Regions from separate parts of the Homo sapiens genome. Here all the other regions are reported to be linked to region 3. The links are microRNA targets in miRTarBase. Many come from high-throughput screens and were not tested one by one. Region 3 holds a microRNA gene; each other region holds the end of a gene's coding sequence.

Region 1 (4,151 bases), not on the chromosome of region 3:
TACTTCTTGGTTGACATTAATACTGTCCATTCAATGCACTTCATAGAACATTTAACTTATTGTAAGATCATTGGCAGCAGTCTTATATATATTTCTAGTACAGTGAATGTTTAGTCAGAAAATGTACTTTCCTTGTAAAATCTATAGCTATTCATAATTTCTTCCTCTCAGTAAACTAACCAAAAATAGTTGTCTTAATCAGGTTTTATTGTTTTTCTTTCTTCACAGCTCCGACAGTTAGTTAATATGTGCATCAACCCAGATCCAGAGAAGCGACCAGACGTCACCTATGTTTATGACGTAGCAAAGAGGATGCATGCATGCACTGCAAGCAGCTAAACATGCAAGATCATGAAGAGTGTAACCAAAGTAATTGAAAGTATTTTGTGCAAGTCATACCTCCCCATTTATGTCTGGTGTTAAGATTAATATTTCAGAGCTAGTGTGCTTTGAATCCTTAACCAGTTTTCATATAAGCTTCATTTTGTACCAGTCACCTAAATCACCTCCTTGCAACCCCCAAATGACTTTGGAATAACTGAATTGCATGTTAGGAGAGAAAATGAAACATGATGGTTTTGAATGGCTAAAGGTTTATAGAATTTCTTACAGTTTTCTGCTGATAAATTGTGTTTAGATAGACTGTCAGTGCCAAATATTGAAGGTGCAGCTTGGCACACATCAGAATAGACTCATACCTGAGAAAAAGTATCTGAACATGTGACTTGTTTCTTTTTTAGTAATTTATGGACATTGAGATGAACACAATTGTGAACTTTTGTGAAGATTTTATTTTTAAACGTTTGAAGTACTAGTTTTAGTTCTTAGCAGAGTAGTTTTCAAATATGATTCTTATGATAAATGTAGACACAAACTATTTGAGAAACATTTAGAACTCTTAGCTTATACATTCAAAATGTAACTATTAAATGTGAAGATTTGGGGACAAAATGTGAGTCAGACACTGAAGAGTTTTTTGTTTTGTTTTAATATTTTTGATATTCTCTTTGCATTGAAATGGTATAAATGAATCCATTTAAAAAGTGGTTAAGGATTTGTTTAGCTGGTGTGATAATAATTTTTAAAGTTGCACATTGCCCAAGGCTTTTTTTGTGTGTTTTTATTGTTGTTTGTACATTTGAAAAATATTCTTTGAATAACCTTGCAGTACTATATTTCAATTTCTTTATAAATTTAAGTGCATTTTAACTCATAATTGTACACTATAATATAAGCCTAAGTTTTTATTCATAAGTTTTATTGAAGTTCTGATCGGTCCCCTTCAGAAATTTTTTTATATTATTCTTCAAGTTACTTTCTTATTTATATTGTATGTGCATTTTATCCATTAATGTTTCATACTTTCTGAGAGTATAATACCCTTTTAAAAGATATTTGGTATACCAATACTTTTCCTGGATTGAAAACTTTTTTTAAACTTTTTAAAATTTGGGCCACTCTGTATGCATATGTTTGGTCTTGTTAAAGAGGAAGAAAGGATGTGTGTTATACTGTACCTGTGAATGTTGATACAGTTACAATTTATTTGACAAGGTTGTAATTCTAGAATATGCTTAATAAAATGAAAACTGGCCATGACTACAGCCAGAACTGTTATGAGATTAACATTTCTATTGAGAAGCTTTTGAGTAAAGTACTGTATTTGTTCATGAAGATGACTGAGATGGTAACACTTCGTGTAGCTTAAGGAAATGGGCAGAATTTCGTAAATGCTGTTGTGCAGATGTGTTTTCCCTGAATGCTTTCGTATTAGTGGCGACCAGTTTCTCACAGAATTGTGAAGCCTGAAGGCCAAGAGGAAGTCACTGTTAAAGGACTCTGTGCCATCTTACAACCTTGGATGAATTATCCTGCCAACGTGAAAACCTCATGTTCAAAGAACACTTCCCTTTAGCCGATGTAACTGCTGGTTTTGTTTTTCATATGTGTTTTTCTTACACTCATTTGAATGCTTTCAAGCATTTGTAAACTTAAAAAATGTATAAAGGGCAAAAAGTCTGAACCCTTGTTTTCTGAAATCTAATCAGTTATGTATGGTTTCTGAAGGGTAATTTTATTTTGGAATAGGTAAAGGAAACCTGTTTTGTTTGTTTTTCCTGAGGGCTAGATGCATTTTTTTTCTCACACTCTTAATGACTTTTAACATTTATACTGAGCATCCATAGATATATTCCTAGAAGTATGAGAAGAATTATTCTTATTGACCATTAATGTCATGTTCATTTTAATGTAATATAATTGAGATGAAATGTTCTCTGGTTGGAACAGATACTCTCTTTTTTTTCTTGCAATCTTTAAGAATACATAGATCTAAAATTCATTAGCTTGACCCCTCAAAGTAACTTTTAAGTAAAGATTAAAGCTTTTCTTCTCAGTGAATATATCTGCTAGAAGGAAATAGCTGGGAAGAATTTAATGATCAGGGAAATTCATTATTTCTATATGTGGAAACTTTTTGCTTCGAATATTGTATCTTTTTAAATCTAAATGTTCATATTTTTCCTGAAGAAACCACTGTGTAAAAATCAAATTTTAATTTTGAATGGAATAATTTCAAAGAACTATGAAGATGATTTGAAGCTCTAATTTATATAGTCACCTATAAAATGTTCTTTATATGTGTTCATAAGTAAATTTTATATTGATTAAGTTAAACTTTTGAATTGATTTGAGGAGCAGTAAAATGAAAGCTATATCTATTCTAAACCTTATTTAGACATTGGTACCAGTTACCCAGGTGAAAATATGGAGTAACTTTGTTTTGTATGGTAAGGTTTAGGAATGGTGGATGAAGGGTATCTCTATATAAATAAAGTGCTCAACAATGTGCAATGATTGTAAATTTAGTAAGATATTACAGCCATTTCATGAATGCTTTACCATTCAACATAGTATCTATTACAAAACACCTTTCTTGTATCCATATACTTCAGGTGTTGCTGTTAACATTTACTATGATATTTATTTTAACCAAAATGTTACTCACATTAAATGTTTATTCTTTAAAATGAATGTATTATGTTTTTAACCCACAAATGCATACTTACCCTGTGCCTCATATTTCAATAGTACTGTAATATGGACATCTTTTGTGAAATACTTTTATTTTGTTATGCTTTAAATATACATACAAAAAGATTTCTGTTATTAGCTTTGAAAATTGTATAATATCCTAATATAAACAAAAATATAAAAATAAAAATGAATACAGTAAAATGTCTGGGTATCTATGATTTTTTCCCCTAAAGTCTTCCATTTTTTATTTTACTTAATACTTAATGTACAGAAACAGTTCTTACGCATTTTCATAACTTTGCCATTTTGGAGAAGCTTAAGAATTGGAATAGACAAGGGTGATAACAGAGATTACACAAATCCTAAAAAGTAGTTTTATCAACATGCATTAAACTAAGGACATCTTCAGGACATCATTTTCTGTTTTTGAATGAGAAACGTTTTCTAAAAGGTAAAAAAAAAAAAAAAGGAATATTAATCTTACTGCTTTGAATCTTTAGAGCAGGGGTGTCCAATCTTTTGGCTTCCCTGGGCCACATTGGAAGAAGAATTGTCTTGGGCCACACATAAAATGTGCTAAGACTAACAATAGCTGATGAACTAAAGAAAAAATAGCAAAAAAAAATCTCATAATGTTTTTTAAAAGTTTACAAATTTGTATTGTACTGCATTCAAAGCCATTCTGGGCCGCATGCGGCTCATGGGCTGTGGGTTGGACAAGCTTGCTTTAGAGTCTAAAATTTACATGACAGATTCAATTCCTGTCATTGTAATGGGCTGCTAAGAATGTTACAGATGGTTTATGTTGAGTGTTATCTTCACATAATAAATGAAGGTTACTGCTATACCTGAAAACTGAGTCTGAAAGATCTTAGCGGGATGAAACCTACCAGACTGTTGGTACAGTGAGTGGATATACCTTACACATCAGAATTATATTCCAAATATACCGTCATGAAGAATGACCCATTTTGTAATAATTTTAGTCACAAGACAGTGGGGCTAGTTATGAATTTTTATTTCAAAAAAGTATACTTGTTTTTAGGCATATATGCTTAAATATATTAATTGGTACAGCTGTAAGTACCATTAAATTGATGCAATTACTTTTTAAA
Region 2 (4,000 bases), not on the chromosome of region 3:
ACCCGGTACCTTCTCTCAGGCCAACAACCAAATGAAGCCAGGAATAACAGGCTTTAGCAACAGGAAATGCAATGTCAGTGGGAACCAAAGCTACGGGGATGGGTAAAATAGGGCAGAGGAAAACATCTTACAAACTTATTATGCAAAGTAGAAGAAAAAACTAGAAAAGCAGCCAAAGATTTTACCTTTTTTCTCCCTCAATGTCCTGATGAGGTTCCAGAAGAATAGAGAGGGTGAACTCTTAAAAATTGCCTTGTTACTTACCATCTCAAAAACGTACCATCAACCGTACTCAAACTGAATGTCTGGCTCCATTCTGACCAGCAAATCTAAATCCCTATTATTCTTGGATACAATCTCCCTTCTTCTCTGGTCAGGTTTATGTCTTGGATGTTCTCAAAACGTACACAAAAGTCTGCAGTATAGTAAAACCTTGGGTAAAAAGTGTGATGCTATGTGGCTTTGTTTACAATGGAACTTCTCTAAACAATTTCATCCAGAAAAATCTACTTCACATGGGGTTCTAATTGTTATTGTCAGAGCTCTTTGAATCAGAGCAACTCCATCTTCAACAGGGACTGGGTAAAATGAGACTGAGACCTATTGGACTGCATTCCCAGGAGGTTAGGCATTCTAAGTCACAGGATAAGACAGGAGGTCAGCACAAGATACATGTCATAAAGACCTTGCTGATAAAACAGGCTGCAGTAAAGAAGCTGGCTAAACCCCACCAAAACCAAGATGGTGAGGAGAGTGACCTCTGGCCGTCAGATGTGAGATTTGTTTCTGTGCTCAGAGAGCTTATATATACTCTGTGCATTTATATATACCCTATCTGTTCAAAGAAGAAATTTAAGTTAGCTCAACTTAAACTACAGGACAATCCAGCTTTGTTCATATTTACCAATCTTCCTTTGATTTTTCACATAGTAGGTAGCTGAAAAACGAGACAATGGTCACCAGCATTTGGTTTACTTGGTAGTTTTATAGAAAATTGTAAATTCACAAGTTGGCATTCAAATATTTATCATTCTTTGAGTTTGAAGAGAATATGCCAAGTTTGCCAAGCATCCCATGAACCTAGATGAGTCCAGCACCGAAGTCTTAGACTATAAAAGAGAACAGGCACTGGAACTAGGCAAGCAATAGAGGGATAACCACTGAGGCTCAGATGAAAAAAGTCTTCAGCAGTGTCATTTCAAACCAAAATATAGGAGGGAAGCCTCACAAAAAACCCTTTTCCAGATGGCTGGGAAATCTTTGCCATAGCGTACAACAGGCTGATTTCAGCAGCTTGTGGTGATAAAATAGATACAATTCAAGCAAATATTCTGCTAAGGGAGGTTAAGAAGGGGGCGGAAGGGGGAGAGGGAGTGTCTCTGGCAGACTTGGTTAAGGAGGGTTGACTTCCTCCCGACTATACAAGTAACCAAGGCCTTTAGATAGTTAAGGGGTTAAGAATTTTTTAAAAAAGTCTAAGCTAAGGAATCAATGGGATAGCAGGGGCAGGATGAGAGAGTTAATAAATTAAAAGCAAGAATGTTTCAATCTATTTGCATTACAAATAGAATGGAATGCAGCTAAATATTCCTCAAAAAGGTGGGAATTTGAACTGGCCTTGGATGGAGTACTTGAAGCATAAAAACTCCCTCTGGTTTTCTTTTGGGAACCAGGATAAAAGCCTCTCCCACAAGTTTGTAGCTAGGCCAGCTAAGGAGAGGAAAGCAGCATTTCAAGATAACGCAATGTGAAATATTACCAAGTTTAAGGCAGGGATTCTTTCATTTCTACTTCTGCCTAGTGACTACAACTGTACTTGGGCCTTGCTTTCTGAGTGACAGGTACAGAAGACAACTACATTTTTCCCTTTGAAACATGGGTAGTCTTTGAGTGAAGAGCAGTATGATCCATAGACATTGCTCACGCTTTAAAAAGCTGTTCTTTGCAAATCTGTGGATATTCAGAGTCTATAAATAGTTGAAGGTAGAAACCAATTTTAGAAACCCTAAACATTCTCAACATAAGATCAAATACAGCTGAATATCTTACCTTGAGAACCAAGGCTGAAGCGATGAATCAAAAAGGAGAGACTCAGACAATTTTAGAACAAAACAGGTATATTTCTATTAGACTACCTGATACAGAAGATAGTGTGGTATGGATGGATAGTATGAAGGACAAATAATACAAATATATTTTATTGAAATAAACAAAAATGCATACACAGCTCAATGGGTCACCTGGAACAAACTTGCTTGACTATATTACTGAGCAGAAACAAAACGGAAGCACAAACACCTTTCTTTTTTTGACATGTATCTGGAGATAGGTAGGAAGACACTACTTGGTTTTTTAAAAAACTGACCTTCCCTTAAGGCCTGGTCATAGAAGTGTAAACAATGTAAATGAATCCACCATTACCAGTTGTCATATCATATCTATGTCACCTGTGTATTCTGAGATTACACACATACCTGCCAATATACCTGGGAAAGGTTATTTTATCACAGTTACACTTGAGTTCTTGGCAGGCAGGACTGAGGAAGAGTAATTTGAAAGAAGTTTTACATCCTATTTAGAAGAAATCACTAGTATTTCCTTAAATAACAGGTTACAATAGAAAGATACTGCCTGGAAGTTATCCTTTCACTTTGGTTCATTTTTAGTTTTTCTTTATGATTTACATAGCTGTTTAATTCATTTGCTTATAGTACAATCCTGCCATAAAGTATTAAAGCACAAGATACCTATTATTCCTTCAACATCTGCATTTTTCAAGTTTTATACTCTACATCCACAGTACGTCAGCAGTTCTTGAATGTTTAAAAAAATAAATGGGTAAAATGCTTCTAAAAAATGCAGATGTTTATAACTACAATGGTACTAAGATGGGAAGGAGACAATGAGAGAAGGGATAAAAGCAAACATGTTCATGTGCAGGGAATGTGGTTCAAGTCTTTGGATTTAAAAACAAGTTCCCCAGAGAAGCTGGCACTTCCTTTGCCCTCCAAAAAGGACCTGAAAAGTCCCAATCCAAACTTTAGAAAATTAGTTATGAGATGCAATAAATGATGATCAAAGCAGTCAGAGGGAGAAGGATGAATGTGTCTTCCATTTAGCTAGAGACTGTAGCATAGCCTCTTTAGGTGTTGGTGGATCAGTAAAAACGACTGAAGTACCAGAAGTGCTTGGAAGGATAGGGGTACAAAGTAATGACCATAATACCTTGTCTAAATCAGTAGCAGGGCTTCATGGCTAGGAAACTTTTTTAAACAGTAAAATGTCATTAGGATAGATCACTCTCTCACCAACATTAAATGTGGCAGAATTAACCAAAAAAAAAAAAAAAAAAAGAAAAAAAGATTTACACGTAGATATAGCAGTAACAGAAAATTACAAGGCAGAGAACACAAAAGAATCAAGACAACGCTATAGGTTCAACAGTATTCCATGAGGCTAGAAAACCGGTTAACTTTGAAAGCCCTAGCAAAATATCACTCTTGTTTATAAATCACTTATTTATCATATGACCACACGTTGAATCCTTGTCTTTCCACATACTGAAGAATCCTACATTCAGCCTTTAAGCATTCTGCATTTCTTTGCCAATCTTGTAGCTGAGTATCTTGTTCCAGTCGATTTTGGTGCGGGTAACTGGAAGCTGCCGGCGCAAGGCCTTGAATGTGGTATCTGACATTGTTTGATAGTTTTCACTAATTGCTGTCTGCAATAGATAATTGAAGATGAGTTGCTTGAACAGAAATGGGGCTGGTTGTGAACAGAAAAGTAATGCTATAGTCAATGGATATGCTTGAGTCCCCTGTGAAGGATAGACAGGATATATTATTTTCAATGAGCTCCTCTCCAATCTCTGAAGTAGGTCAAGAAGTTCACCTATATTATTTCTAAAATGAGGGCTACAGTCCCAAGCAATCCTCAAACCCTGACTGTAAGCAGAATGCCAACTTGGAAGGTCTGCAAAGTCTCCCACATTTAGTAA
Region 3 (4,151 bases):
CTCTAAAAATAAGAATAACTTTTAAAATAATAAAAATACATTAATTGGCCGGGCACGGTGGCTCACACCTGTATTCCCAGCATTTTGGGAGGCCAAGGCGGGTGGATCACGAGGTCAGGAGATCGCGACCATCCTGGCTAACATGGTGAAACCCCTTCTCTACTAAAAATACAAAAAAATTAGTTGGGCATGGTGGTGCGCACCTGTAGTCCCAGCTACTCAGGAGGCTGAGGCAGGAGAATGGCATGAACCTGAGAGGCAGAGCTTGCAGTGAGCCGAGATCAGGCCACTGCACTCCAGCCTGGGCTACAGAGCAAGACTCCGTCAAAAAAAAAAAAATACCACATTAATTATGGTGCTGGTTTTAGCATATGTCCACAAATTCTTTGAAACCCCTCCCTGTAGGAGGCAGGGCCTAATCTCCCTCCCCTGAGTGACTCACTTCTAATGAATAGACGGTAAGCTTGTCCAACCCGTGGCCCAGGACAGCTTTGAATGTGGCCCAACACAAATTCATAAACTTTCTTAAAACATTATGATATTTATGCACAGACCTTTTTTTTTTTTTTTCTTTTGAGACAGAGTTTCCCTCTGTCACCCAGGCTGGAGTGCAGTGGTGCAATCTCGGCTTACTGCAAACTCCTCCTCCTGGATTCACACCATTCTCCTGCCTCAGCCTCCTGAGTAGCTGGGACTACAGGCGCCCACCACCACGCCCGGCTAATTTTTTCTATTTTTAGTAGAGATGGGGTTTCACTGTGTTAGCCAGGATGGTCTCGATCTCCTGACCTCGTGACCCACCCGCCTCGGCCTCCCAAAGTGTTGGGATTACAGGTGTGAGCCACCGCACCCGGTCCTTTTTTTTTTTTTTTTTTTTTTTTTTTTTTTTAGCTCAACAGCTGTCATAGTGTTAATGATGTATTTTATGTGTTGCCCAAGACAATTCTTCTTCCAATGTGTCCCAGGGCAGCCAAAAGATTGGACACCCCTGGAACAGAGTATGGAAAGGGAAATTAGCAGCTTACGGTGGGTAACTCTGGTAGACAACGCCTTAACCAAGTGATCAAGGTTAACTTCACCAGTGAGCAATCAGGTAGATATCATGTGCCCCCTAATATTATGTGATGAGAAGGCCATTTCACCTCTGGGGTATTCTTTCCCCAAACCCCAACTGCAGTCTAATGATCAGAAAACATCAGACAAATCCAGATTGAGGGACATCCTACAAAATACTTGACCAGCCCACTTCATAAATGTCAAAGTCATAAAAAAACAAGGAGAGACAGAGAAATTGACATAGATTGAAAGTGACTATTATGATATAATAATTAAGTGCAACATTATATCCTGATTAAATCCTGGAACAGAAAAAGGACATTAGTGGAAAAAACTGGTGAAATCTGAAGAAAGTCGGGAGTTTAGTTAATACAACTGTGCCCATGTTAATTTTTGAGTTTTGATAAATGTATCATAATTAGTACGATATTAACATTGGGGGAAGGTGGATGAAGACTACGGGGGGTTCTCTGGATTTGCAACTCTTCTGTAAATCTAAAGTTAACTTTAGGGGGTATATGATGTCAACCTGATTTAGCTAAAGTTAACTTTAGATTTACAGAATAATTGCAAATCCAGAGAGAGGGAAGATTTAGGTTGGTGCAAAAGTAATTGTGGTTTTTGCCATTGAAAGTAATGGCAAAAACCACAGTTTCTTTTGCACCAACCTAATAAAATAAAAAGTTTAAAAGGAAAAAAATCTCTCAAATGAAGACGTAGGTCCACACAAGGACTTGTATGTGAATGTTCATTGCAACTTTACTCAAAATCATCCAAAACTGGAAGTAACCCAAATGTCCATCAACTGGTAAATGAATAAACAGACTGTGGTATATCCATTCAGGGGAATGCTACTATGCAATAAAAAGGAACAAACTATTGATACATCCAATAATATGGATGAATTTCTTTTTTTTTTTTTTTTACATTTTTTTTTTTTACATTTTTTTTTTAATTTATTTTTTTATTGATAATTCTTGGGTGTTTCTCACAGAGGGGGATTTGGCAGGGTCATGGGACAATAGTGGAGGGAAGGTCAGCAGATAAACAAGTGAACAAAGGTCTCTGGTTTTCCTAGGCAGAGGACCCTGCGGCCTTCCGCAGTGTTTGTGTCCCTGATTACTTGAGATTAGGGATTGGTGATGACTCTTAACGAGCATGCTGCCTTCAAGCATCTGTTTAACAAAGCACATCTTGCACCGCCCTTAATCCATTTAACCCTGAGTGGACACAGCACATGTTTCAGAGAGCACAGGGTTGGGGGTAAGGTCACAGATCAACAGGATCCCAAGGCAGAGGAATTTTTCTTAGTGCAGAACAAAATGAAAAGTCTCCCATGTCTACTTCTTTCTACACAGACACGGCAACCATCCGATTTCTCAATCTTTTCCCCACCTTTCCCGCCTTTCTATTCCACAAAGCCGCCATTGTCATCCTGGCCTGTTCTCAATGAGCTGTTGGGTACACCTCCCAGACGGGGTGGTGGCCGGGCAGAGGGGCTCCTCACTTCCCAGTAGGGGCGGCCGGGCAGAGGTGCCCCTCACCTCCCGGACGGGGCGGCTGGCCGGGCAGGGGGGCTGACCCCCCCCACCTCCCTCCCGGACGGGGAATATGGATGAATTTCAAAAACATTGTGTTGAGCAAAAGAAGTGAGACACAAGAGACTACATCTGTATGACTGCATCTATAGGAAACTTTAAGAAAGGCAAGACTTTAGTGCAAAAGCAGATCAGTGCTTGTTAGGAACAGGAGTGGGGAATGTGGGGGGTAGAGAGAAGTAATTGACAGCTAAAAGTCACAAGGGAAGTTCTAGGGGTGATGAAATGTTCTGTATCTTGATGGGGCAGTGGTTACATGACTACAGTGTGTGTATATATATGTTAAAACTCATCAAGCTGTACACTTAAAGTGAGTTCTATTCTATGTTAGCTATATCACAATATGGCCAGGTGTGGTGGCTCATGCCTGTAATCCCAGCATTTTGGGAGGCCAAAGTGGGCAGATCACTCGAGGTCAGGAGCTTGAAAACAGCCTGGCCGACATGGTGAAACCCCATCTCTACTAAAAATACATAAATTAGCCAAGTGTGGTGGTGTGTGCCTATAATCCTGGCTACTTGGGAGGCTGAGGCAGGAGAATCGCTTGAACCCAGGAGGCGGAGGTTACAGTGAGCTGAGATTGCACAACTGCACTCCAGCCTGGATGACAAAACAAGATTCTGTCTCAAAAAAAAATTATATATATACATATACACACACATATATATATTATATATCACAGTAAAGCTGATTTTTAAAAAATCTCTCAGCCCCTGCTATTGCTTTGTTTTTATCCTCCTGAGCCTCTCTATAGCTATGGCACTTGAATTTCCTTCTTCCTCTTGGTGGCTTTTGTTCTGTCTTATTTCCTGATGCCCTTTCTAGGTCCCTAAACATTAGTGCAAAGAGGGCACCAGAGCAGAGGGGAACAATTCTCTCTACACTCAAGTGGAATCTCTGAGCTGAGGGACCCAGAGAGGTGGAGTAGCCAGCAGGGCCCTGATGACCCGCACCTGAACTCCCACGGGTCTGACGGCTGCTGTCACAAGAGCCTGGGGCCGCTGGTCTGAGTGTGCTGGCGATCCAGCCAGGCTCAGGACGCTGAGGAGGAGGTAACCGAGACCAGGCTTCTCCCTTGTCAACAGGCAGACAGATCCCGGGGATCTTGTTAAAACACAGAGGCTGATTCAGCAAGCTGGGCGGGGGCTGCAGATTCTGCATTTCTAATAAGCTACGGAGTGATACGGTGCTGAGGGTTGGAGGCCCACACTCTGAGCTCAAAACGGAGACCACAGGGATATGCAATGTGTGCAGAGAAGGGGGAGGATGGCACAGGCTGCAGCAGTGGGGCGGGTGCTTGGCTACACTTGGAAAGGAAGTTCTCACAGTGTCTACAGCAGGAACCCAGACAGTTTCTGAGCCATCCTGGGGCTACTACAGGGACTGGGAAAATTGCACCAGTTGGGGAACAAAAAGTAAACAATGGTCTTATTACAATTAGTATGGTCTTTATTGCATGTAGGTGACAGGCCCTTAAAGAAGGTTTCATCCAGACAT
Region 4 (4,144 bases), not on the chromosome of region 3:
ATTGGCTTTCTCAAACCCACCCTTTGAGAGAGGATATACTAAATCATATGGAGTTGCTTAAAGTTCCTAAGCTTTAAGCACGTTTGCAGAGTGGGAGGTGATAATGATAGGGTAGATAGGAGAATTAAATGAGATAGTACATAAATGTCTTACTTCAGTGCTCAGTGACGTTTTTATTTTCTTTAAACTATTAAGGGTTCTTGCTCAGTGAATCATCATCATTGTCAATCATCGTTACAATGCCCAAGCTGTTACCTTAAAATTCCTAAATCACCCAACTGATATTCTCATGGATCTGAACCACTGGCATTTTTGGAGTGGGGGACAGGGAGAAGTGCAGAAAAGGATCAAAAGGCTGGGTTAGGGCACAGGTTCTTTTGGGAAAGGCACATTTGGGTGCGTGCAGAGAAGAGAGCTCTGGCCACATCTTGTTCACTCTGGCACTGATGGCAATTTTCTTTCCCCTCAGCATGATGACCGTGAAGGCGAAGGCAGTGACAAGTGGGTGAGCCGGGGCCGGGGCCGAGGAGCCTTTCCTCGGGGTCGGGGCCGGTTCATGTTCCGGAAATCAAGTACCAGCCCCAAGTGGGCCCATGACAAGTTCAGTGGGGAGGAAGGGGAGATTGAAGACGACGAGAGTGGGACAGAGAACCGAGAAGAGAAGGACAATATACAGCCCACAACCGAGTAGGGGCCACCCTTGACGGGATTCCTGCCCAGGGGAGAGAGGCGCTGGGAAGATGGCTGGTGAGGAGCTTAACAGAGGAACCTCAAGAAGATTCTGAAAATCCTACCCCCACCCCCCACCAGCCGCACAGATTGTACTACCGCGAGAGGCATCCCTGGCGCTGTCTCCCACTGGACAGAGGAGGCTGGCCATGGGGCCCAGGGGTCAGGCCCAGCTTTTGAGCAGAATACAACGCATTGGGCTTTAGCTGTTTTTCTCATTTGTTGGTGTGTGGGGTGGGGGCAGGGGTAGGGCGGGAGAGCGATGCTTGGATTTTTGTTTCCTATTAGAAACCAACAGTTTTGTTCTAATTTCATTTCATTTGGAGCTAAGATGACTAATTTGATGATTTTCGATCTCTTTTCCCCTGTCCTGATTTTAAAAGCCCCCTCCTTTTTTTTTTTTTTTTTCTTTTTTTAGGCATATGTAGTAATATTAGAAACATTTAATTTGGGAAACTTTGATTCTTGAAAGAGAAAACAAAAGCATGTGAATAAACTTTGAAGTGTTCACCTCAGTTTGGGACCAAACTGCTTGGATCTTTGTAAAAACCGGTTTTGTATGTCAAGGAGGAGTTTAAGGCCTTTCCGACCACCTTGTGTTCCCCTTTTCTGCGCAGCCATGTATCACGTGGAGTTGCTCCTTACCACACCTCACGTGCCCCTGAGCCCTATTTCCTGATTTCTTCTGGGCTGGACTTCCCCGTTCTCCACCAGCAGCTCCAGTATCCCAAACTTTCTAGTCCTGCTGATCCTCCCAGCAACGGGGTGGAAACTGGAGGGCAGTGTCTGGTCTGTTTTCTAAGAAACTTATGAATTCTATTATCTTTACAAATATGAGAAAATTTTTTCAATATTTTTTATTAATCTTTTTATAAAATGAAAAGAAACTCCTATGATCGATTAAGGAAGGTGGTTATGGCTGGGTGGTTCAGGGGTTTTTTTGGGTTTCTTTTTTTTTTTCTTTGTCTTTTTAACCTTAAGCTGTTTAAGTTGAAGCATTCTCAGATGTTTGGGGGGAAACATCCTCTTAAAATGGGTCCTTGTGCTTGCCTTCTGGGGAGGCGGTCCTGAGCAGGTGAATCATAAGGCATTTATGCATATGTTATATGCGGACTGCACCCACCTCTCCCCCCCAGCCTTTGCCTCTTGCGTTGTTGTGCTGCTTTCCCCTTACTTTGCTACATTTCTATAGTTAAGTTGGTTTTACTTGAATGATTCATGTTTAGGGGGAAAATGAAAATCTCCCTTAAAATTTGTTTCAACTCCTCCTGCAAATAAAATAAATGAAGTGGCAGATGTAAACGGGTTCTGTTCATTGTCATCCTGAGTGTGTGTGTGTGTTGAGGGTGGTAGATAACTTCCCACGGCAGTTTCAGAAAACCTGAAAGACAAAGGGCCTGTGGGGCCTTGCGCAGGCTGCTGGAGTCCCAGACAGACACAGTCCTTCCTGGGAGGAGCATTGTGTACCTTGGACACCCCAGGAGAAACAGATTTTTTCCACTGGTGTCATAGGCAAGGACTTTGGCTTCCTTCATCATGGTGGTGGGGCAGGGATCAAGGGATGTGGTTAGTAGGCTCAGCCTTCTACCTGAAAGAGCCTATCCCACATGGACTGGCCATAGGGTGGGCCCTAACCTTCAGACTCCTGCCGGCTGGGGACTCAACTGTGAGCAGAAATCTTGGAAGCTGGTAAAATTCATTCTCCCGGCCTAACTCCCAGGGAAAACCTGGAGGTGTTTTCTGAAACCAAACTAGACCTCTGGCCCCAAAGCAGGGGTCTTTGCTGTGTCCTTCCTATATGGGGGTAGAGAGTGGGTACGGGGCCAGAGAGGAGTACGCCTTGAAGGAAAGCAGACTGGAAGTGTCCACTCAAAGCTATTGCTGGTACAAGGGCAGCCACTTCATTCACTCAAGGCCGGTTTAGAGCGGTTGCTACTTGCTGGGGGGCCCCACCCTGGTATGTGCCTCTCCCCACCTTTTCCCCTCAAGCCAAAAGCTTGTGAGCTGGGGAAGGGTGGGCCTGGAAAGGCTCTGTGCAAATTGTAGCTGGGAGCCTCCGGGCAAAAGCTGAGGGAAAGGGAGAGGCGGCTGGCCTAAAATTTAGGTGGGCGGAAGAACCTGTGACGGAGCTGTGACCGCTGCACAGGCCAGAGACCCTGGAGTCCTCCTCACCCCGGGGTTGGGGGCCGGACCTGCTGAGCCGGGCCGCCCCCTCTCCACACCCACTCCCAGCACCTGGCCCGACCTATCGGCTGGCGGCTACGCCTCCTTTACCCTACTGTCTTGCCTCAGGTCGCACCCTGCGCGGGCCCAGTACTCGGCCGTCAGAGGGAGCTGCCAGGCTCTGGAGGGCGCCCCGGAAACCATGGGTAAGTGCGGAGGCTTTGAGGTGGCCTCTCTCTGCAACCGTGGACATAGCAAGAGCCCACACCACCCCCCGACCCCCGCTGCCCTCTACGGTGCTTGGGGACACGCCCGCCCTAGCCAGGCTGCCCGGCTGGGCCTTTCTGAGCCGCACGCCGGCCCCGTCTTCCGCCCGCAGAAGTCCTCGTCCTGGCCGGATACCGCGCGCAGAAGGAGGACGAGCTGAGTCTGGCGCCCGGGGACGTGGTCCGGCAGGTGCGCTGGGTGCCCGCGCGGGGCTGGCTTCGCGGAGAGTTTGGGGGCCGCTATGGCCTCTTCCCCGAGCGCCTGGTGCAGGTGAGGCCGAGCCAGGGGCGGGCTGTGGGGTCTCAGCGCGCGCCCCCCGGGAGCTGAGAGCGCCTTCCCCGTGCCCTGATTCCCAGGAGATCCCAGAGACCCTGCGGGGCTCCGGAGAGGCGCGGAGGCCGCGCTGTGCGCGCCGCCGAGGTGAGCGCAAGGGCGGGGACGGGCGCCGGTGGGCGGGTGCACGGAGCCAGTGCGACCCCGGCGTCTCCGGCTCTTAGTGACGGGCGCGGCTCTGGGCGGGACCTCGGGGCCGCCCTGCGGTCTGTGATTGGTTCTCGAGTGCAATGCTCCGCCCTGGGGCGGGGCTGGAGGGACCAAAGGCTACGTGCGCGCCTTGCGCTTCCCCCAGCTCCTCTGACTGGGGCGTCCGACTGGAGCTCAGCCGCGCTTGTCCGGTGCTAGGTCATCCTGCCAAACACCCGAGGCCCCAAAGATGGTGCAAAGTGAACTTCAGCTACAGCCCAGAGCAGGCGGACGAGCTGAAGCTGCAAGCTGGGGAGATCGTGGAAATGATAAAGGAGGTGAGGGGTGAGGTGATGGGACCGTTTGGGGGAGGATGATGGAACGCGCCTCCCTAGTGAGCGGGGTGGGAAGTGAGGGTGTGGACGGTGGGAATGGCGACGGTGCAGATACGGGGAAGCGCGGGAGGGAAGGAGGGAGGAAGGGGCGCTTGGGCAGAACCAAGGGTGGCAGATTATCCTAGGGA
Region 5 (4,151 bases), not on the chromosome of region 3:
GTATCTCAAAGTAATAAGAGCTATCTATGACAAACCCACAGCCAATATCATACTGAATGGACAAAAACTGGAAGCATTCCCTTTGAAAACTGGCACAAGGCAGGGATGCCCTCTCTCACCACTCCTATTCAACATAGTGTTAGAAGTTCTGGCCAGGGCAATCAGGCAGGAGACGGAAATAAAGGGTATTCAGTTAGGAAAAGAGGAAGTCAAATTGTCCCTGTTTGCAGATGACATGATTGTATATCTGGAAAACCCCATCGTCTCAGCCCAAAATCTCCTTAAGCTGATAGGCAACTTCAGCAAAGTCTCAGGATACCAAATCAATGAGCAAAAATCACAAGCATTCTTATACACCAATAACAGACAGAGAGCCAAATCATGAGTGAACTCCCATTCACAATTGCTTCAAAGAGAATAAAATACCTAGGAATACGACTTACAAGGGATGTGAAGGACCTCTTGAAGGAGAACTACAAATCACTGCTCAATGAAATAAAAGATGACACAAAGATATGGAAGAACATTCCATGCTCATGGGTAGGAAGAATCAATATCGTGAAAATGGCCATACTGCCCAAGGTAATTTATAGATTTAATGCCATCCCCATCAAGCTACCAATGACTTTCTTCACAGAATTGGAAAAAACTACTTTAAACTTCATACGGAACCAAAAAAGAGTCTGCATCACCAAGTCAATCCTCAGCCAAAAGAACAAAGCTGGAGGCATAATGTTACCTGACTTCAAACTATACTACAAGGCTACAGTAACCAAAACAGCATGGTAGTGGTACCAAAACAGAGATATAGATCGATGGAACAGAACAGAGCCCTCAGAAATAATGCTGCATATCTACAACCATCTGATCTTTGACAAACCTGACAAAAACAAGCAATGGGGAAATGATTCCCTATTTAATAAATGGTGCTGGGAATACTGGCTAGCCATAAATAGAAAGCTGAAACTGGATCCTTTCCTTACACCTGATACAAAAATTAATTCAAGATGGATTAAAGACTTACATGTTAGACCTAAAACCATAAAAACCCTAGAAGAAAACTTAGGCAATACCATTCAGGACATAGTCATGGTCAAGGACTTCATGTTTAAAATACCAAAAGCAATGGCAACAAAAGTCAAAATTTACAAATGGGATCTAATTAAACTAAAGAACTTCTGCACAGCAAAAGAAACTACCATCAGAGTGAGCAGGCAACCTACAAAATGGGGGAAAATCTTTGCAACCTACTCATCTGACAAAGGGCTAATATCCAAAATCTACAATGAACTCAAACAAATTTACAAGAAAAAAACAAACCCATCAAAAAGTGGGCAAAGGATATGAACAGACAATTCTCAAAGGAAGACGTTTATGCAGCCAAAAAACACGTGAAAAAATGCTCATCATCAGTGGCCATCAGAGAAATGCAAATCAAAACCACAATGAGATACCATCTCACACCAGTTAGAATGGCGATCATTAAAAAGTCAGGAAACAACAGGTGCTGGAGAGGATGTGGAGAAATAGGAACACTTTTACACTGTTGGTGGGACTGTAAACTAGTTCAACCATCGTGGAAGTCAATGTGGCGATTCCTCAGGGATCTTGAACTAGAAATACTATTTGACCCAGCCAGCCCATTACTAGGTATATACCCAAAGGATTATAAATCATGCTGCTATAAAGACACATGCACACGTATGTTTATTGCAGCACTGTTCACAATAGCAAAGACTTGGAACCAACCCAAATGTCCAACAACGATAGACTGGATTAAGAAAATGTGGCACATATACACCATGGAATACTATGCAGCCATAAAAATGATGAGTTCATGTCCTTTGTAGGGACATGGATGAAACTGGAAACCATCATTCTCAGCAAACTATTGCAAGGACAAAAAACCAAACACCCCATATTCTCACTCATAGGTGGGAATTGAACAATGAGAACACATGGACACAGGGTGGGGAACATCACACACCGGGGCTTGTTGTGGGGTGGGGGGAGGGGTGAGGGATAGCATTAGGCGATATACCTAATGCTAAATGACAAGTTAATGGGTGCAGCACACCAGCATGGCACATGCATACATATGTAACAAACCTGCACATTGTGCACATGTACCCTAAAACTTAAAGTATAATAATAATAAAATTTAAAAAAAAGGAAATGTATATCCTATTTTGGGCAAAATGATTTAGGGCATGGAGAAGCCAATTTCAAGATGGCAGAACATGGAATGTTGGCATAATCACATGTGACCTCTAGGACATACTGGTAGAACATGAAAACACGCTTTCAGGATTTCTAGAAATTATTAGGTGAGGAGAGCCCAGTAGAAAAGTAGAAAAGGGATAGGAACTTCAACTATCGCTATCTCTATAGTAAAGGGAATTTTTGCACCAACAAAACTACACAGGTCTCAGAAACCTTGGTTACTCATAATTTCCATCAGCACATAATGAAGATCCAAGGAAGTTGTGGTCTTTGGCTGATAAATGGGTTGAGATTGTGGCTCAAATCTTCTAGGGAAAGGGGGAAGGGGAGATGTCATGAGGGTAGACAAAGTCTAGCTCCAAAATCATCTTGAACTCTTACCATAAAGTGAAATTCATCCCTGTATTATTAGAAGTAGCAGTAGTATTTTCCAAGACAAAACAGGTTCCAATTCTGCACAAATATGAGATAATTGAAAAGTTTTATTATAAACAACATAAGCAAAAAATTCAATGCAGTGGGGGCAGAAGTGTGTGGATGACCTGCCAAACAATAAGTATTCAAAGTGTTGAGTGAGGGAGGTGAGGTTGCAACTATCTTTCTCTAGAAAAGAAGAGAACTGGGTATTCATCAAATTGGTTAAATTGAGGTTCGTCAAAGAGTTTCTACAGATACAGCTGAATATACTAAACATTGCTCTATTATCTGTTGAATTGCTGTATTTCACTTTTTCAGCATTTGGGGATCATTATTTAATTGAATTTGTAGAGATCGATTTTCCAGACAGGTCTCTGTTCTTCAATGAACAAATGATAAGAAACAATTTGACTCCTTATATGACAATGGAATTAAATAAATTGACACTCATCTAGGAATAATTCTACAATCATCTCCATCTCTAAGATTACCTACTGCAAACAAAGAATTGATCTTTCTTTCTCAAAAACCACATGGGTAAGATGATCATTGTGACTCTGAATGCAAGAATAAGTGAGTGGAAGCTACAAGGGGAGATTATCTGCCAACATAGAAAGAATCTAGAAGAAAAGATTTTATTACAGGTAACATGACATAGCTTGGAGCCATCTTTTTGGTCTCTTGCATACATTTTCTCTGCATGTCTAAGGAAGAATTCACAAGGTAGCAAGCACCAATACTTTCTGCTTTGGAGTTTCACAAATTGAAAATTTGTCCCTCTCTTGTTAAGTCAATCAAACATCTACCAATGGCCAATGGTGGTCCTTAGTTACGAGTGCCTGAGAGACAGAAACTAGAGCACTCGACTATGCTAAATAAGTAAGTATGGGGCAAGGTTGCCAGAGAATATGCAGAAAATACAAACAGATTTTCATTAAGTTTAATCTTCCGCGAACAGACGTAACAAAATAAAGGAAGCAATCTGTAACGCTGTCATGATTAATTCAAGTATCCCATCCTTACTCTCCACTTCCGTTCTTGCCCTTTGCTGCCTTACAGCATAGTGAGCCTCCTGTTCTGCTAGTTTCTTCTCCATTTGCTTCTTTCTCTTTTCCTGCTCCACTTTATCTTCCAGCTTTCTGATTTTCTCTTCATACTCCTCTCTTATCCGCGCTTTCTCTCTCTCCAGCTCCACTCTGTGGAGTTCTTGCATTGCTTGTGTTTGCTTCTGGATCTCCTCCTCCGCCCTTTGGTACATCCTATTAGTGTAGCAGCCTTCCTTGTTCTCCCTCACCACGCGCTGGATCAGGCCCAGCAACTGTGCCCTCTGGGCCTCCTGCTCAGCGCCTGTTGCCTTGTTGTTTAACGCACAGTAGCGGTCACCGAAAATGTCCATCAAGTCTTGAATGTCTTCTGGAGCTTCCCTTAAGTAGTCATGCAAATTGGTGTCACCTAAGTCATCTTTCCGGGTGAATATGAGAATCATGAAACTTCTAGCCCTCTCTCCAAAC

Evidence for each region. The annotated mature microRNA hsa-miR-548d-5p reads AAAAGUAAUUGUGGUUUUUGCC and lies in region 3 at 1,661-1,682, shown strand. An mRNA with a match to its seed (bases 2 to 7 or 8) in the 3' UTR can be bound and repressed. Matches are read on the target gene's strand: a 7mer-m8 pairs with bases 2 to 8, a 7mer-A1 pairs with bases 2 to 7 and ends in A, and an 8mer does both.
Region 1: the mRNA of NEK7 is a reported target of hsa-miR-548d-5p. Seed matches in the 3' UTR shown: 7mer-m8 at 1,312-1,318.
Region 2: miRTarBase lists CAPZA1 as a target of hsa-miR-548d-5p. Seed matches in the 3' UTR shown: 7mer-m8 at 3,207-3,213 and 7mer-A1 at 2,725-2,731.
Region 4: the mRNA of THRAP3 is a reported target of hsa-miR-548d-5p. Seed matches in the 3' UTR shown: 7mer-m8 at 1,900-1,906.
Region 5: the mRNA of GIMAP4 is a reported target of hsa-miR-548d-5p. The part of its 3' UTR that is shown has no 7-base or 8-base seed match.

Annotation. Positions count from the first base shown.
Region 1 is chr1:198,319,184-198,323,334 of GRCh38, forward strand. NEK7 (NIMA related kinase 7) reads left to right here. Exons shown (of 10, transcript NM_133494.3): 10 at 229-3,237. The coding sequence ends at 339. Among named protein-coding and RNA genes, the nearest start is that of NEK7, 160 kb to the left of the region's middle.
Region 2 is chr1:112,669,716-112,673,715 of GRCh38, reverse strand. CAPZA1 (capping actin protein of muscle Z-line subunit alpha 1) reads right to left here. Exons shown (of 10, transcript NM_006135.3): 10 at 2,100-3,724. The coding sequence ends at 3,584. Among named protein-coding and RNA genes, the nearest start is that of MOV10, 2.9 kb to the left of the region's middle.
Region 3 is chr17:67,469,071-67,473,221 of GRCh38, reverse strand. MIR548D2 (microRNA 548d-2) reads left to right here and starts at 1,637; the gene lies at 1,637-1,733. The region is part of intron 1 of PITPNC1 (phosphatidylinositol transfer protein cytoplasmic 1); the gene reads right to left. It overlaps MIR548AA2 (microRNA 548aa-2), which reads right to left and starts at 1,733; the gene lies at 1,637-1,733.
Region 4 is chr1:36,303,327-36,307,470 of GRCh38, forward strand. THRAP3 (thyroid hormone receptor associated protein 3) reads left to right here. Exons shown (of 12, transcript NM_005119.4): 12 at 470-2,031. The coding sequence ends at 691. It overlaps SH3D21 (SH3 domain containing 21), which reads left to right and starts at 3,042. Exons shown (of 16, transcript NM_001162530.2): 1 at 3,042-3,098; 2 at 3,272-3,429; 3 at 3,516-3,579; 4 at 3,841-3,959. The coding sequence starts at 3,095. RefSeq lists silencers at 3,083-3,132, 3,353-3,792 and enhancers at 3,290-4,090, 3,893-3,942.
Region 5 is chr7:150,572,490-150,576,640 of GRCh38, reverse strand. It overlaps GIMAP4 (GTPase, IMAP family member 4), which reads right to left. Exons shown (of 3, transcript NM_018326.3): 3 at 2,688-4,151. The coding sequence ends at 3,581. Among named protein-coding and RNA genes, the nearest start is that of GIMAP4, 7.2 kb to the right of the region's middle.